Linked DNA regions of Homo sapiens: region 2 is linked to region 1. The links come from fine-mapping of genetic effects on gene expression. Tissue or cell type: whole blood. Region 1 holds a variant in brackets; the other region holds the start of a gene. All regions are shown on one strand. Distances are between the middles of the regions.

Region 1 (2,500 bases):
AAGAAATTTTAAAAGGAAATTACAATCCCAGAGAATGAAGTTGGACTCTGAACAAAGATTTTATTATTTGCTCCTTAAATAATTCCCAAACTCTCACAAAAGAAAACTAGATGCCTGCCAGTTATGGGATAAAATAGCCATGTCTAGTACGTTGTATTTGTTAGATCAGTACTTCTTGAGTTGGTTCTTCTTAAAGAATTCCCCTCCCTCATACCCCATTGGGAGGCCACCTAAAAAACTTTACGCCCATCTATCATGATGCTGATGTGACAGATGATCTAATTAGGTGACTGACAGCAGAAGCACAAAAATCAGATATAAGATGATTTTCAGAATCAGGTAGGATTTTTTAGGAGAGAATACATGACGGGGGCCTATTGTCAAGTGATTAAATCCTAAACACTGTGTGATACTCATATTCCACTATATGTTATAATTTTAACAGCTTATAATAATTTATATTGATAAATGGACTGTCTCCTCTAAGATTTTATTGCCTTTTGAGAGAAGTCATCTTGAGATTTGGTTACAGAGATGGTGCAGAGGAAATATTTTGTAATAGAAACCAGAACAAAGGTATAAAGGCAATTTCTAATTTATTGTTGTTGTTTTCCAAGGTCATTTTTTTTTGAGAATTTAAAGTGCATTTCCAATAGAAGAATGTTGTACTATAGAAAACTCCCAGGCTAGCCATACGATTTTATTTGTCCTATGACATATATTAAATATTTTTCCTAGAGCCTTAATTCAGCTATACCTAACTACCATGTATAAAGAATAAGTATATACATTGTGGTATTCAGATTAGGAATATTGCCCTGGCAGAGGGAGTGGAGACGGCTCTGGGTTTCTTCCTGTGGTAGGATTTGGATTGGAGGGGATGCAGACCTTTGGCGGCAGCACCACAGTTCTCCAGGTGTTCTGAACTGGGAAGATGGGGAAGAGGGTACATTTGTTGGGGTGTGTCTGTG[T/C]TGTGTTTAAGAGCTAGGATGTTTTCCATGCGTTCTTTTGGTTTCATTTTTGAATACTGTTTTCTGTAAGTGAAGATAGAAGAGTTGTCCAGAAGAGAAGGAGCTGTGTGGATTCTGAAAGAAGTATTTGTCTGTGAGGCACAACAGTATTGTTAAATTAATTTTGACCTTTGTTTGAGGGGAGCATTTTCCAGTGATTGGCTATTTTAAGAGTGCCAATCTAATAACCCCTTTAAAAGCACTTAGAGTAATAGGATAAAATTAGACTTTTAAAATATCACTTTTTTTGTTGTTGGGTGGGGGAATCACTTGCAAGGTCCACACAAGTCCGCCTATGTACTCTCTGGATCGAATATTTGCTGGATTTCGAACACGAAGTCAGATGCTGTTGGGTCACATAGAAGAACAAGATAAGGTCCTCCACTGCCAATTTTCTGATAACAGTGATGATGAAGAATCAGAAGGCCAAGAGAAATCTGGAACTAGGTATGTTAAATATACACTGATTTAATAAATATTTAGAATTATATGCTGCAATAAATATAGAAGTGTAGGTTTTTTCCATTGGAGTATATCTTTTATGTTTAATAGAAGAGTAGGTAACTTTTGCTAAAAGTACTATCATCTAATGTGTTATGAAAATAGTATTTGAACACAAGTCATCAGTCTTATAACTGAAAAATAATTTTGCTTTTAGAGCTTTTATAGTAATGAGATTCTAATTTTCAGAGGTTTTTTTTTTTTTTTTTTTTTGGATTTCCTTATTCTGCTGCCACGTTGGCAACAAACATGACTTTTCTACTGGATTCAACATGGATGGGGGGGGCATCCTTTTATTTTGAGCAATATTAGTAACATTCTGTTTTTATATGTAACTAATAATTTTTTTAACATTACTTTCACTTTTCGGGGAAACTAATTTGAGGGCAGATTAGAAAACACGAACAAATAAGTTAACTTTCTGATTTTTTTTTAAGATGTAGAAGTCGTTCATGGATTCAGAAGCCAGACTCTGTTTGTTCCCTTGTTGAATTGAGTGATACTCAGGATGAAACACAAAAGTCAGATTTGGAGAATGAAGGTACATAGATCTTCTTAAATAATGTAGACCTAATGGTTATAGGACACTTATCTTTTTCCTCAGTTGATAATTTAAGAAACATCCAGGAATTCTCAAAGACCAGAATTTGGTACAAATGCTTTCCTAGTTGGTAGAACTTCTTTTATGTTCTCTGTTTTACCTCTTTTACTCTTTTACTCCTTAATAAAAAAAGATTTTCTATCAATTAATTATAGCGAGAGATATAGGCTAACTCCCTCAGAATAAGGATTTTTATATTCAGACCTGAATTGATATGCTTTGTATTCCTGATGATGTTAAAATACAGTATAAATAATTGTACTAGGTGTCTACTCCTTCACTGGGACTTGTGCCTAACATCAATGATGTATTTGGCATTAGAGCCCAATTAGTGTACTGGGTGTTGGTAATGTTTTAGTACACAACTGCTAAGAATTTTTATGCATCA
Region 2 (2,748 bases), 32 kb before region 1:
GACATCCAAATATTGTATGTGAATGTCCATAGCAGCATGGAAACAGCCCAAATGTCCACCACCAGCTGAAGAATGGATAAACAAAATGTGGTATGTCTATATCCATACAATGGAATTTTTTCAGCCCTAAAAAGTCCTGATAGGGCCGGGCAGGGTGGCTCATGCCTGTAATCCCAGCTACTCCGGAGGCTGAGGCAGGAGAATCGCTTGAACCCATGAGGTGGAGGTTGCGTTGAGCCTAGATGGCGCCATTGCATTCCAGCCTGGGCAATAAGAGCGAAACTCCATCTAAAGGGCCGGGCGTGGTGGCTCACGCCTGTAATCCCAGCACTTTGGAAGGCCGAGGCGGGCAGATCACGAGGTCAGGAGATCAAGACCATCCTGGCTAACACAGTGAAACAAACCCCGTCTCTACTAAAAATACAAAAAATTAGCCGGGCGTGGTGGCACGCGCCTGTAATCCCAGCTACTCGGGAGGCTAAGGCAGGAGAATCGCTTGAACCCGGGAGGTGGAGGTTGCAGAGAGCCGAGATCACGCCACTGCACTCCAGCTTGGGCGACAGAGCGCGACTCGGTCTCAAAAAAAAGAAAAGAAAAAAAAGAAAAGAAGTCCTGATAGATGTTACAACATGACTGCATCTTGAAAACATTAAGCAAAAGAAGCTAGACACAAAAGGTCATATACTGAATGATTCCATCAATAAAGAAATGCCCAGAATAGGTAAAGCTATCACAGAGTCAGAAAGTAGATTAGTGGCTGGCTGGGGTTGTGGGGAGAGGGGAACCAGAAGGAATGACTGCTAACTGGTTTGGGGATTTTCTTTTGGGGTTATGAAAATGTTTCTGAACTATATACAGAGGTGATGGTTGCACAACACTGTGAATGCATTAAACGCCACTGAATTGTGAGTTTTAAGATGGTTTATGTTAGGCAAGTTTTACTCAATAAAAATAAAAATAAACTGAATTGGTAGCTAAGATATTGAAACACGGTGTGGAATCGTTCTCACTCATTTCACGAACCCGTAGAAAGATGCTTGCGCTCAGGCCTCACAGACCGGTCCCAGCGCGTTGGTGGGACACAACTCGGATTTGCAGGCAAGCCCAGGGGCCGGCCCTTTGCGGACTTCCTGGGGACGCAGGACTCCTGCGCGGCGGGCTTGGAGGCGTGGCCAGGATGGGGGCGGGGCCAGGACGCGGCATCCAGGAGAGGACGCGGCGGGAGGCGGGCTTCGCCGGTTGCCAGGAGAACTCGCGACAACAAAAGACGCGGACGGCGGCTGCGCGGTGTGGCAGAGCGAAGCTGAGGAGTCCAGCGCTCGCCGACAGGGGCCTGGGCTGTCCCGAGCCGGTCAGTGCTCGGCGGGCCTGGCGGGCGGTGCGGGGAAGTGGGGCGCCCTCCCTTCGCGGTGCCCGCCCTCCAGCCCGCCGCGCCCGCCGCTCCCGCGCCCCCAGCCGGCCGTTGGGACTAGTAGGCTCCGGCTTGGGGTCGGGGCCGCCGCGGGTGGGTAGCGGAGGGTGGGCGGTTGGGGCGCCAGCTAGGCCTATGGGGGCGTCCGAGGGGTCTGGGGTCGGGGCTGGGAGCCGGCGAGCGACTAGAGGCAGAGCGCCCCTTCCGGAGGAAGTTGGGTCAGCCCTGAGGAGCGGGTCCCGGGGAACACCGATCGACCGGAACGCGGGACCCGGCCTTTCAGAGCGCACCCTGTGTTCGTCTCGTGTCGCTGCACGGCGTGAGGTGCGACGCGAGGGCCACCACCACCGAGCGCTTTGTTTTATCGCAGGCGTCTTTTTCCCACCGTAGAGGTTGAAACTTGGGCGCATTTCCCACCGTAGAGGTTGAAACTTGGGCGCATTTCCCACCGTAGAGGTTGAAACTTGGGCGCATTTCCTACCGTAGAGGTTGAACCTTGGGCACATTCAAGCCCGAGAGCTCCCTCCCTCGGAGGCAGGTGACTATAAAGAGCAAAGCGCCCAGATTCTTTCTTTGAAACACCTTTTAAGTAACACCTTTTAAGTCTCCAGTGTTGAAAATCCTTGTTGTTTGCCCTTCTTTACTCTTTTGTCGTCTTTACGCATTTGGGGCCTTTTCTGAGCTCCGTATGCGATTTACTGTCCATCTACTGGCAAGTTTTTTATGAAAATAATTAACAAACCACACATTTAAGACAACCACTGCTTTCTGGGAAATCAAGGGTACGGGATGGCAACGGTTTTTGGAGACACTCATTCCTGACCAGTGACATGACATGAGGGATTCAATATTTCTCTTGCCTTTGCTCAGATTTCAAAAACCCGTTGAGTATACTTAAATACGACCAATCAGATTTTGCTTTTTTTTAAATCATTTATTGGCAACATAATACGTATGTTTCTGATGACTATAATTGATCAGAATCTGAAGTATAAGTGCTATGGATTGTGTAAAAACTTTATTTCTTGTATATTGATGTTTTACAAGCCCTATGTTTGTGGACCATTACTATTGTTTGTTTGTTTTGTTTTGAGACAGGGTCTCGCTCTGTTACTCAGGCTGGAGTGCAGTGGCACACTGCAGCCTCAACCTCCCGGGCTCAAGCGATCCTCCAATCTCAGCCTCCCAAGTAGCTGGGACTACAGGTGCGTCACCACAGCCTGGCACATTCTTGTATTTTTAGTAGAGACAGGGTTTCACCATGTTGCCCAGGCTGGTCTGGAACTCGTGGGCTGAAGCGATCCACCTGCCTTGGCCTCCCAAAGTGCTGGGATTAC

What was found. PIP is the estimated chance that this variant, and not a neighbour inherited with it, causes the effect.
Region 2: KIF27 starts here. The variant in region 1 is fine-mapped to the expression of KIF27 in whole blood (TOPMed, PIP above 0.99).

The regions. Positions count from the first base shown.
Region 1 is chr9:83,888,041-83,890,540 of GRCh38, reverse strand. It overlaps KIF27 (kinesin family member 27), which reads left to right. Exons shown (of 18, transcript NM_017576.4): 7 at 1,288-1,457; 8 at 1,949-2,052. Among named protein-coding and RNA genes, the nearest start is that of KIF27, 32 kb to the left of the region's middle. The variant T/C (reference allele first, on the strand shown) is at 972.
Region 2 is chr9:83,919,974-83,922,721 of GRCh38, reverse strand. KIF27 (kinesin family member 27) reads left to right here and starts at 1,290. Exons shown (of 18, transcript NM_017576.4): 1 at 1,290-1,351. It overlaps LOC105376335 (serine/arginine repetitive matrix protein 1-like), which reads right to left and starts at 1,821. Exons shown (of 3, transcript XM_011519284.2): 1 at 1,461-1,821; 2 at 1,024-1,368. The coding sequence starts at 1,821. RefSeq lists enhancers at 1-394, 1,009-1,758 and silencers at 1,128-1,277, 1,308-1,687.